Regions from separate parts of the Homo sapiens genome. Here regions 2, 3 and 4 are each reported to be linked to region 1. Evidence: microRNA targets listed by miRTarBase, many of them from high-throughput screens and not tested one by one. Region 1 holds a microRNA gene; each other region holds the end of a gene's coding sequence.
The links. Region 1 holds the annotated microRNA hsa-miR-377-3p (AUCACACAAAGGCAACUUUUGU, at 800-821, opposite strand). A microRNA usually pairs through its seed, bases 2 to 8, with sites in the 3' UTR of a target mRNA and lowers its output. Matches are read on the target gene's strand: a 7mer-m8 pairs with bases 2 to 8, a 7mer-A1 pairs with bases 2 to 7 and ends in A, and an 8mer does both.

Region 1 (3,151 bases):
ATCTGCATGAAGATTTGATTCCTCAATGTGTTCTTGTCTACATCAAATATCACTGTTTATCACCGCCGCCACCGTGAATTTCCTTCCATGGCTGCCACGTCGGCAGCTTGCTATTTCCCCAGGTCAAATGTCACAGCTGAAATGTTGTCAAGAAAATTGGATTCCTCTGCCAATTTGTAGTCAACTGAACACATTTAGCACTGTGCCGTTTCAGCTGTTTTTAGTTTTATTTTGTGTTGATTATTTTTATCAGTATTATTTAATACAAATGGGATGAGATACTGATAGCCTCTATTTGTTTCATAACCCAGGAGAAAATTGGGAACAATGTTTGGTTGGGGGATAGAAAGAGAAAGATAGAGACAAGGAAAGGTGCAGAAAGAAGCACAGTGCTTGTGAGCTAGACGGGGGTCTGGGGCTGCAGACTCGTCACAGACCCTGCCAAGTGTGAGCTCTTTGTGTATCCGCGAGGTCAAATACCTTCCGAAAAAAAAATGGTGGAGTCAAAATGTCTTTGGGATCAACACAGCCAAAATGGTGATGTAAAGAGACAGGGTCCAGGGTAAGAGCTAAAGCCGACGCGACACCAACGCCATCCTCCCCGGGCCGCGAGCCCCGCCCCCATCATGAATGAAGCTTGTGTTCTCTGAGCGACATCTGTTCTCATCCACCGCAGAGGACCGCAGAGGGCAGACCACCCACGTCTACCCCGTCCATTCTTGCTCACGGGAGGGGTGTAGATGCCCCTGAGCTTGCCACTGGGTCCCGGAAGCCATCCCAAGCAGGATTTGATACTCAAACAAAAGTTGCCTTTGTGTGATTCAACATAAATAAAGCGAATTCACCAAGGGCAACCTCTGCTCAAGGGTCAAACATCAGCACGGGCAAGAACACACCGAGATGCCTCTTCACCAAAGGCGGCATTGCCTGCGGGACCTCCCTGCTGACTCCAGCTGCAGGCTCGCTGGCTTGCTGGCTCGCTCTCTCCCCTCTTGCTCTCTCTCTCTCTCTACCTCCGAGAAGCCCCCCAGGCAGTGGTCAGAACATGGTTGGTCATGGACCAGCTTCTGTAGCCCTGGAGCAGGCAGTGGGGGCGAGGCTATGCACACACACATCACAGGTCAGCCCGAGCTAGAGTCAGCCCCTGGTCACCTACCCTAGAGGGGCTGGAACACCAAGGTCCACCTCCAGAGCCGGTATCTCCTCTGGAAGTCTCTGAAGCAGGATTTCACACAGAGAAGGGGGCTGCCAATGAACCATGTGACCGTGTTCAGTCCAGCCTACAGGGGTTTGAGGGAGGACCCGACCTGAAGGCTGGCGACTCCTCGTCCAGCGCAGCATCCTCAGAGGGTGGGTGGGGCTGCGTCACAGGGACAGCACAGGCTCAGGTGACTGTACTCCATGCACTCCATTCCAGGAGGCCTCAAAGAGAGTTCAACCAAGAAAACAGGTCACGCTGCCTATTCATTCATTCAGCATCACACCTACTGTGCACATCTGGCGACACAGCACCAGGCAAAACAGACAAGGACTCTGCCCTCAGGGAGCTTCCATTCTAGTGGCGAGAGGACAATGAGTGCAGATGACATAACATTCATATAATGACCATCCTCAGAAACAATGCTTATCCTACAGCCACGTGCCAGACGCTGTCTAGACACTTCACAAAGAGCACGTTTCCACTCCGCTGTTAACCCTGCTTTACAGAGGAAGAGACTGAGGCCCAGAGAGCTGATAGGTGAAGGGATTTTCCAAGGGCACACAGCTGGCAACATAAGGTAGTAATAAATGCTATTAACAATTCTCGTCTTGCAGTAGGAATAACCGAGTCGTGCCATGGAAATGTGTCTTTAAACAACATTAATTCTCACTGCTGAGGAAACCCCCTTCACCCCTTGCTTCCCAGAGGTCACCCAGAAGATAAGGTATTTGAGGGCGTAATGTGGATGTCTTCCATTCAGCCAGGAGTTCCTTTCCCTAAAGTGTGCCACACAGCCAAGATGATTTCACACCTAAAAAGGTTGACTAAATGTGGTTTATTCACTGACGAGTCTTCAAGGATGCGACTAGAAGACCACCATGTCAACTAAAACGTCAGCATCATTTCGGGGAATTCCTCCTAATGATGGCCGGGATATGAGCCAAGTGATGTAAGTCACACAGAGAGCACCTGTCATGCGGAGGTGATCCACTTCCTTACCCTGCGCAGGTGCCGGCTGGGCTTTCCCCTCGTGACGTTTCCCAAGAAGAATTGAGTACCGAAAGGAGATTGGCCATGTAATACTCATCATAAATAAAATGAACACACCATGGACAACCTCCATTCGAGTACCTGACTTGGGTGCTCGCTTCCAGCGCGTCCCAGCAGCAGGCCTGAGGACGGACGGGATACTGAGAGTCAGGAAGGTGGCAACACACCACCCACGAAATAAGCTCTGCGGTCCGGGCCGCACTCCATCCCTTACTTGCAATTAGCACCTCTTGCAGGAAGCCATTCAGGGAGGGAAGTGCCACAGCAGAGAGGTCTGCAGAGCACCATCTGTGATACATGAAGAGAGGGCAGCAGGGAAGACAGCAAGACGGTGTCTTGTCAAACATGCAGTGAGCCGATGAGGGAACTGCCGCCTCTTTCGAGGAAACTGCCATGGTAAGCAAGCAGGACGCCTGCAGGTGCACGACCCACCAAGAAGAGTGTGCACACTGTCAGCTTCGCCGTGCGTTCAGGCATTCAGACACCAGTTCTAGTTCCTAAACTCGGCACCACCCGAGGGTGCTTTAAGGCTAGATTTAATGCTTTCAAAAGAGTCCACTATGTAGGATTGGTCAAAAAATAAATCGAATGCATCATGGAAGACCTCTCCACCAGTACCACAGAGTAGCTCTGATAGGAAAAGCTCCACTTCTTCCCCAAAGGTGGCACCATCTCTAGAAACCTCCCCAAGGACGGGGCACACACAGGGTTAGGGCCAGGGCACACTGCTGGGTCGGCTATGGTCAATGGTCCCCTTCCTTACCCTGGAGAGGAGCTGACACCCTGAAGTAAGACTCCGCTCCAGGAAGCCCTCCAAGGCGGGATTTGGTACTGAAAAATAGGTCAACCGTGTATGATTCGTCACAAATAAAGCGAAGGCAACACGGATAACCTATCTTC
Region 2 (3,151 bases), not on the chromosome of region 1:
CTCTCCAGCAAAACTTTTCCCCATGTCCAAGGCCTTGGCTTTCCTCATCATTTCCAGCGTATATGAGCAAGACACAGTGCTATCATACATCCCCCTGCAGCTTTAAAAAGCAGCAGAAGCAAGCACTTCTAGCCAGACCCTCAAGCACCATCACTTACCTAACTGACAGCCCAAAGCCAGCATTATGTGTAACTCTGGCAGGACTAATCCCCTTCGTTGCTCCACCACTGGTCATGCTGATGACAAAAACTTATATTCCCATATTAGCTTTTACTCAGATGGCTTATGGAGCCAGTTTCCTATCTTTCTTGGGTGGGATCAGATGGGGTTTTGCTCTACCAGAAGGTAGTCCAGCCAAACCAGACTACCTTAATTTAGCTAGCAGTGCAGCTCCTCTTTTCTTTTCATGGTTTGCCTTCCTTATTTCTGAAAGACTTAGTGAAGCCATAGTCACAGTAATAATGGGTATGGGAGTAGCATTCCACCTTGAACTTTTTCTCTTACCACATTATCCCAACTGGTTTAAAGCCCTGAGGATAGTAGTCACTTTATTGGCCACTTTTTCATTTATAATCACTTTAGTAGTTAAAAGTAGTTTTCCAGAAAAAGGACATAAGAGACCTGGTCAAGTATAAAAAATATAAAAGTCTGGGAAGTGAGGAGCACCTCTGCCCAGCTGCTGCCCCGTCTGGGAAGTGAGGAGCGCCTCTGCCTGGCCGCCTGACCATCTGGGAAGTGTGACAAGCGCCTCTGCCCGGCCGCTGTGCAACCTTCCACGTGTGAAGTGACAGCCTTGTGTGTGATCTTTTCTGTCTTCCCCAAGTTTGCATTTTCGACATTAAAGTTTACTTTTTAGTTAAAAGTTTTAAAAATATATATATATAAATACACTGTAGATAACATTTGTATGCCAGCTACACCTTTTTCTACTTCTGTTTGGCTTTTTTTCCCCACACCAATGGTAATTTATCTTCACAGATTGTTCTTCATTTCTAGAAATTGTTACTTCATGGTAATTACTTGAGCAAAAGCTTGAAAATCCCTGACAAGTACTTTTCATCTCATAGTATATTAGTTTTCACTCAGTCATTTTATGAATAATATAGTTATCCACTTAAACATTTCAATATTTTAACCATCTTGAAAATTAAAGATTAAAAATCCCCTTTGTTAGAGTCTTGTGATCATTGAAAAGAATGCACATATTCTCCCACTTCAAGCGGAAAACCTCGTATCTGTGAGTATCTGAAAAGAAAAGGTAGTTCCATTGAGTTTTCACAGGAGTTACCACTGGGAAAGGCATGTCCAAACTTATTTCACATGGTATAACCCAATTATATGAGCTAAAAGGATCTATGGCTCTAAAGTCAGTAGGGAGCAGTGTCATGAGGGAAAGCCACATTCAAAGGTAAGTTGGACATGTTTTCCAGTTTTTATTAGGATATTTGGCATGGTACAGATAACAACTTGTCCCTTACCACCAAACACATAATAGCTGGTCAAAATGATTATTTTCAAAGGAAACTATTTAAAATAAAGCCACTAGTACATATAAATTAGGAAAGAAAAGTCAAGCTGGAGCCATCTTGATATTCTAATGAGCAGGCCTATCTAGTTCTACATCTTTTTTTTTGAGATGGAGTTTCATTCTGTCGCCTAGGCTGGAGTGCAGTGGCACGATCTTGGCTCACCGCAACCTCCACCTCCCGAGTTCAAGCGATTCTCCTGCCTCAGCATCTCTAGAGTAGCTGGGATTATAGGCACGTGCCACCATGCCCAACTAATTTTTTGGTGTGTATTTTTAGTAGAGGTGGCATTTCACCATGTTGGACAGGCTGGTCTAGTTCTACATCTTTTAAATCACAGAGAAGCTTTTAGCTTTGGTGTGTTTTTGTTTTTGTTTTGTTTTGTTTAAACGCAGGGTCTCACTCTTGCTCAGGCCAGAGTGTAGTGGTGTGGTCATGGCTCACTGCAGCCTCGACCTCCTGGGCTCAAGCAATTCTCCCACCTCAGCCTCCTGAGTAGCTGGGACTACAGTTGTGCACCACTATGCCAAGCTAATTTTTTAATTTTTTGTAGAGACAGGGTCTCCCTATGTTGCCCAGGCTGGTCTTGAACTGAGCTCAAGCAATCCTCCTGCCTAGGCTCCCAAAGTGTTAGGATTGCAGGCGTGAGCCACTGCACCCAGTGCAGAAGCTTTCTTAAAACAGCAAAAGCAACACCTTAGATTTTCACTTGAAAACGTAGTCTCTAATCACTCTACTTAAGGTGGAGAAAAAAAGAATTAACAGAAAACCTAGTTTTCTGAAATTCCTAGTCTCACCAAAAAGGAAAAACATTAAAAATGGTCTAAGGATTAAAAATGGTCTAAGGATATAGATCAGGATATAGTATAACCTGGAATTTTTTTTTTTTTTAGATGGAGTTTCACTCTTGTTGCCCAGGCTGGAGTGCAATGGCGCTATCTCGGCTCACCGCAACCTCCGCCTCCCGTGTTGAAGCGATTCTCCTGCCTCAGCCTCCCGAGTACCTGGGATTACAGGCATGCGCCACCATGCCCAGCTAATTTTGTATTTTTAGTAGAGACAGGGTTTCTCCATGTTGGTCAGGCTGGTCTCAAACTCCCAACTTCAGGTGACCCACCCACCTTGGCCTCCCAAAATTCTGGGATTACAGACATGAGCCACCGTGCCCGGCCTGTATATTTTTTAGAGATGATGTTTCCACTCAGTCTCAATCTGATTCTACTCAGATTGTTTTGATAAGGAAACTCACTTCTTTGTTATTAAATTGCATGAATGCTATACAAATTTAAGACTTTTCCATAATCTGAATTAAATGAATTATTTTCCAGAATAGAGGCAAATCATATTTTTAGGCTAATTGCCTAATTTTACTTAAAAATGCTATTTTTCCAGGTGAATTACAGTGTATGCTTCTTTAAGAAAACTGATTTTTAAGTACATTTGATTAAGTACATTGGCAGGATACTTAGAAGCATATCGGATTGTTAAACATTTTGGAGGTAGATCACTTTAATCATTTCTCAAAAAACAGAATTAAATGTAAAATGAAATGTGCAAGTCCTTAAAGTTAAAACAAAACCAACTAAAAAACTTGTGCAATCCTACTACAGTTTGGTAACCCAGAA
Region 3 (3,151 bases), not on the chromosome of region 1:
TGGGGTTTCACCATGTTGGCTGGGCTGGTCTCAAACTCCTGACCTCAGGTGATCCACCCACCTGGGCCTCCCAAAGTGCTGGGATTACAGGTGTGAGCCACTGCACCCGGCTGACAATGAAGATTTTACAAATACCTTCTAAATTCATTTTGGGAAAGGCTAGTTTCAGCCCTTTCCAAATGTAACTCGTCTCCTCTGGGGAGCCCTCTCAAATTGCTTTAACTTACTCATCTCCCCTTCCTGTCTTGCAGCCTTTGATCATATAGGAACCCATGTGTCATGTTCTGAACCAGTCAGTCTCTAAGGCAGGTGCATAGAGCAGCTGTGTCCAGCTTGCCCTGGAAAGAACAAGTACCATGTGGCAGAAGAATAGGGACGGCCTTGCCAGGCTCTGCGGCCTAGCCCTGGTGGGTTTCCCAGAGATGACTGTGTGAGGAAGGGTGGTATGATTTGGCAGTTTCTCTCAGCTACAGCTCCAAATAGGCTCTAGAAGAGCATCACTCACTGTGGTCACTGTGTCTTCCCCTTACAAAGGGCAGTGAAGGTCTATGGTTCCAACTACAAAAAACAAAAATTAATATCCTATTCCCAGAGTACTATGCAAGCACTTTCAGCGTCATTCTCAGGGCACCATCCAAGCAGACAGGGCCTATTACCAACCCTTACTTATGTAACAGAAGTAACGTCACACTACTTCAGTACCCTGGGCATATCCACCCTCAGCTGGACCTCAGAGCAACTCATCTTGGGCTAGAGTTGGGGACCCAGAGCAAGCAGGTCTTAGTATTTGTGCCTGCACTTGACCTGCCTCTAACCTGGAGGTAATGGCTTGTGTTCCCCTTCTGCCACAAGCAATCCCAACAGCTCAAGCCAACCTTCCAACTAGTCATGTGGGGCCTTTTTGGCAGGCTCCTGGCTACACAATACTCACTCACACCATTGTGCACTGGAATAATTTTTATTTTTTTCCTTGGCAAAAAGTCAAGTGCTACATTTTTAAAAACAGAAAATCTCAAACAATCAAACGCATTACCCATTACAGAAGAGGGTCTAGCAATAGTACAAAACATCCTACTGAAGATTTTTTTTTTAAATATACAAGTCAGTTTAAAATGATAGAAGTTCTGTGAGAACTAAGAAATCTACAGCCTGTAGTTTAATAATAGAAAAAAAATTAAGACAATTAAAAGATCTATAGCATCCAGCATTTTGCTTAATTCCCTGTTTATAGCACCTATTTCTCTAGGTTCGAAGATGAGAATTCCAGAACCTGTGGTATGTGCTGTGTAACAAGTTAGGGTGGACTTGCTGTCTCTCCTCTCCAGTAGCCCCCCACCATTAAAAGGAGAATATATATATAATTTTTTTTCCAATTTCCCTTCTTACACCCAGAGAAGAGGGGGACAACTGGGAGAACAAGTTAAAAAACTGGGGTGCAGGAATAAATATGACTTTTCCTTTCCCCAAAATGGGATGTTGACAGAAAAGCAGAGTATGTGCTTAGAGGAACTGGTGGGTGGGAACAGCTGTTATCTTTGACATGATGTGTAAAAATCAGGGAACAAGTGGACATCACAGTCAGCTGCCTGCAAGTTTAAAAACCTCAGACTAAACAGACAGTTCAAGGGAGGAACAGACAAATTACTAATCACATTGATGCTGTCACATGCACAATGATGCTGACTGCAGGCCAGCCTGTCACCATCTCAGGGCTAAGCCAACAGAGTAGGAGGGGTGGCTTCAACCCCAAGTCCCACTGCAGTAAGAAAATGAATATTCCACACATGAAGCACTCACTACACACAGATAAACCCCCTGCTCACCCCCACCTTCTTAGACTTAACCCAATTTAGAAAATAATAGCAAAACCCACTGGGGAGATTGGAAGAATGGCAGAGAGGATTCTCCTCAAAGCCATGGGGGCTATGGATGTGAATCTTAGCAGACTTGAGACTCCCAGCTCCAGGCCCCTTAAAACCAGATCAGGTCTTGAGGGGAAGGAGAGAGAAGCTAGGATGGGGATTCAAGTCCCATGAAGCCTTTTGTAGCCTCTGGAGCTGCACCTGGATGGTGAGTCTGATGTTTTAGGGGTGTGGCTACTGGCTAAGCAGATGTGAGGGTGGGAAGGGGAAGTGACACCAACTTCCCACACGGGGGACACACAGGTGGGAAGACAGGTAGGGCTGGATCACTTTGCAGTCCTGGCATGGGAGGCCCCAGGAAGCCTACAATCTAACTAAAAAGATTTTCCCAGTGGTAATTTCTTTTCCTTTCTGTTTTTACTTCCTATTATCAGTGTTGTTAGACTTAAAAAACAAGATACAGACTAGTCCCAAAGCTGGACTCTGTGAATAAAGTTGTTTCTTTTATAAATATTTTAATTACAAGTAATCCTCACTCCAGGTAATTTCAGTGACACACAGTACCTACAGGCACACAAGATCACACACACACACGCAGACAAGATCTCTCTCTCACACACACACAGACACACACAGCTCCCAAACTTTCACAGAAAGTCTGAGAGCAACCATGTAATTATAAAGGAGCCCTACCTCTCAAGAGTGAAGTAAGGGTGAGCTATGTCATTTCAGCCTGAAGAAGCCAGAGACAGGAGAATGTGTGTCACTTAAAGAAAAATAGGGATTAGCAACAATGTTTGGTTGAAAAGCCAGAAATAATAAAAGATAGTAAAATTTTGATTACCAAAGGGGAAAACAAAAAGCAAAACAACTTTCAGATTTCTGTACAGAGCTTCTTCCTATTAAGTGCCTAAACTATAGGCAAACTTTGGTGTTCCCACTAAAACACAAGAGCCTCACACAATTAGGAAAAAAAAAATCAAAAGAAACAAGGAAACTGAGAATGGAAGTTAGTGTAAATCTCTGCATTTGGGGAGTTGTCATTAACTCCAGAGCCCAGCATAGTTTCCATGGAGCCCTGAAGGGAGGGGACCTCCTGCCACAAAGAGTTTCGTTCCAGACGAGTCGTAGCAGTGGGTGTAAACAGCATTGGGGAAGAAGTCAATGTCTGAAAAGTAATTCCTCCAGGTTTCATCATGATTCTACGGGAAGAGAAAGAGACTACAATTAGCACCTCTAGCCATGGGGCAGGAAAAGGGGGAGGAAGGGACAGGAATGCTTTCTGGTCT
Region 4 (3,000 bases), not on the chromosome of region 1:
TTTTTAGTAGAGACAGAGTTTCACCATGTTGTCCAGGCTGATCTTGAACTCCTGACTTCTAGTGATCTGCCCACCTCAGCCTCCCAAAGTGCTGGGATTACAGGCGTGAGCCACCATGCACCCAGCCTCTTATGTAATTAAATGATCACAACAATCCCATGGAAGTCTGCTGTACGATTGCCAGTAAACAGAGGGGGAAGAAGTAAGTGACTTAGTCACCTCCCCTAATTGGCGTGTGCTACAGTCAGCCCAGGAATCCTGGCTGGTCAGATCTTTCAACCTCCTCTCAGCACCACCATAACACGATTGCATTATGTGCATACAAGGCAGAGCTTTCTAAAATTTAGAGCTGGTGGGATGGTGTGGAAATTATGTAGTGGTTTCCTATTCTCAAAGATGTTCGAGCAAATGCTTGATGACTGTTATCAAAAATACTGAATAAGTGGCTCACACCTGTAATCCCAGCACTTTGGGAGGCTGAGGTGGGCAGATCACCTAAGGTCAGGAGTTCAAGACCAGCCGGCCAGCATGGTGGAACCGCATCTCTACTAAAAATACAAAAATTAGCCAGGCATGGTGGCGCCTGTAATCCCAGGTACTTGGGAGGCTGAGGCAGGAGAATCGCTTGAACCTAGGAGGCGGAGGTTGCAGTGAGCCAAGATCACCCCAACCCAGCTTGGGCAACAGAGCAAGACCATGATTGAGGAGAGTGGAAATGGATAATCTATGAAGGCACCTACCAACTTTAATGTTCTGAGTTCTGTACTTTGGGACTGGACATACAGCTATATTAAGTGATTTTTTTTTTGGTCCCCCTGTATTTTCTTTTCTTTTTTTTTTGAAAGGGAGTCTAGCTTTGTCTCCCAGACTGGAGTGCAGTGGCGTGATCTCCGCTCACTGCAATCTCCACCTCCTGGGTTCAAGCGATTTTCCTGCCTCAGCCTCCCTAGTAGCTGGGATTACAGGTGTGCACCATCATGCCCAACTAATTTTTGTATTTTTAGTAGAGACAGGGTTTCACTATGTTGGCCATGCTGGTCTCGAACTTCTGATCTCAAATGATCCACCCGCCTCAGCCTCCAAAAGTGCTGGGATTACACGCATGAGCCACCGCACCCAGCCTCTTTTCTTTTTGAGACATGGCCTTGGTCTGTTGCCCAGGCTGCAGTGCCTTGATGCCGTCACAGCTCACTGTAGTCTCAACCTCCTGGGCTCAAGCGATCCTCCCACATCAGCCTCCTAAGTAGCTGGGACTACAGGCATGCTCCACCCCGCCTGGCTATTTTTTAATTTTTTTATAGAGATGGGGTCTCGCCATGTTTCCCAGGCTAATCTCAAACTCTTGGGCTGAAACAATTGGCCTGCGTTGGTTTCCCAAAGTGCTAGGATTATAGGCATGAACCACCGTGCCTGGCGGTATTATATTTCTTAACACCCAGGTGTGTGAATAGAGACCTCTTTTTTTTTTTTTTGAGATGGAGTCTCGCTCCCATCGCGCAGGCTGGAATGTAGTGGCGCGATCTCGGCTCACTGCAACCTCCACCTCCCAGGTTCAAGCGATTTTCCTTCCTCAGCCTCCCAAGTAGCTGGGATTACAGGCGTGCGCCACCGTGCCCGGCTAATTTTTGTAGTTTTAGTAGAGATGGGGTTTCGTCGTGTTGGCCAGGCTGGTCTTGAATTCCTGACCTCAGGTGATCCACTCGGCCTTCCAAAGTGTTAGGATAACAGGCGTGAGCCCCTGCGCCGGGTCTAGAGACTTCTTCAAAGCTGGGAAGGTACAGGGTGTGCCCTCTGAACAGCAGCAGAGCTTGTTGCAAACCTGAACTTTCTGGTCCTCTGCTGCCCCTTTGTGGACTACCTGGAAACAACAGCCCAATATATCGCTGTAGGAGCATGAAATTGGACTTGGGAGAATAGCACCAGAAGAACTGGTGGAGGTTTGAAGGCTGGTGGAGGATACGAGGGAGTCACGACTGTTCTTTTCTCCAGCAAGGTTGGGGTTCCCAGGAGAGAGGCCTAGAACTCTTTCAAACTGTCAATGACTTCAAGAAACTCTCTTCTTTTTCATGATCTTTATTTATCCTCGAGACGCTTGGATCCAGTAAGCGAGTGACAATTTCAAGACTGCCAGCCATGCACCTCTGTATGTTTTTGGCCCAAGCAGCAGCCGTGGGCCTAGTGCCAACCCTCACACGCTAGCTACCTCCTCCTGTGCTTGGAGTGGAAAGTCTGTGGGGTTCTCTGTCTGGTTCTGCAAGCTTTTCACACCATCTCTTCGCTGTCTGTCTCTATGCTAGGGGTTTCACACAACTCTACACCATTGCATTCATGCTTGCCGTATCCCTGACTTTCTGCACAAGTGCAGGGCAGAGATGGCCCTTTTGTTTTGGTGAGGGAGAGAGGGAAACACTTGGGCACAAAGAGGGGAAGGGACTGTGAATCCCAGGGAGCACCCTGGCCAGATCCCAGCGGTGTTCGAATCCCAGGACCATCTTCCATCTACAGCCTAGCTGCCTCCTTCCCTGGTCAACCCTTCCTGGGTGCCCATCCACCACACTGCCCAACCTCACTCCCCGTCCCCTCCCACAAAGAGTGACAGTGGCCTGGGGCTCGGCCTCTCCTGACCCCAGGGGAGGATGGGTGATCTGGGCCTCCTGCTACCTGCCACCTGGGCCTCCTATCTCCAGCTGGGAGCCAGGGACCTACCCACGGGCCTGGCCTGACCTCTCTCCCCCTCCCCTCATGCTTCCAGACCCTGCCGCAGCCTGCGGTCCAGGGCCAGGAGCTGCCTCAGGAAGCCCCGGTTGGGGATGATGCCTCGGTGGTCTTTGACTTTCTTGATGGCCTCCACGAGGGTAAGGTGGTGGTACAGCATGAGGTAGGCCAGTACCAGGGTGGCGGATCGGCTCACGCCCACAGCACAATGCACCAGGATCTTCCCTGAGAGGAGAGACACAGAGAGAGCTTTGAGACTGCTTGTGGCAGCTTGGAGGAGGCTGG

Region 2: miRTarBase lists TMEM69 as a target of hsa-miR-377-3p. Seed matches in the 3' UTR shown: 7mer-A1 at 778-784 and 7mer-m8 at 797-803.
Region 3: the mRNA of DCAF12 is a reported target of hsa-miR-377-3p. Seed matches in the 3' UTR shown: 7mer-m8 at 2,819-2,825, 7mer-m8 at 2,475-2,481 and 7mer-m8 at 2,443-2,449.
Region 4: miRTarBase lists DUSP26 as a target of hsa-miR-377-3p. Seed matches in the 3' UTR shown: 8mer at 2,302-2,309 and 7mer-A1 at 2,262-2,268.

Annotation. Positions count from the first base shown.
Region 1 is chr14:101,059,764-101,062,914 of GRCh38, reverse strand. It overlaps MIR377 (microRNA 377), which reads right to left and starts at 865; the gene lies at 797-865. MIR496 (microRNA 496) reads right to left here and starts at 2,342; the gene lies at 2,241-2,342. MIR154 (microRNA 154) reads right to left here; the gene lies at 3,077-3,151.
Region 2 is chr1:45,693,271-45,696,421 of GRCh38, forward strand. It overlaps TMEM69 (transmembrane protein 69), which reads left to right. Exons shown (of 3, transcript NM_016486.4): 3 at 1-1,166. The coding sequence ends at 635. It also overlaps a transcript of IPP not described here. Among named protein-coding and RNA genes, the nearest start is that of TMEM69, 6.7 kb to the left of the region's middle.
Region 3 is chr9:34,085,445-34,088,595 of GRCh38, forward strand. It overlaps DCAF12 (DDB1 and CUL4 associated factor 12), which reads right to left. Exons shown (of 9, transcript NM_015397.4): 9 at 943-3,064. The coding sequence ends at 2,906. Among named protein-coding and RNA genes, the nearest start is that of UBAP2, 38 kb to the left of the region's middle.
Region 4 is chr8:33,589,273-33,592,272 of GRCh38, forward strand. DUSP26 (dual specificity phosphatase 26) reads right to left here. Exons shown (of 4, transcript NM_024025.3): 4 at 2,058-2,940. The coding sequence ends at 2,741. Among named protein-coding and RNA genes, the nearest start is that of DUSP26, 9.2 kb to the right of the region's middle.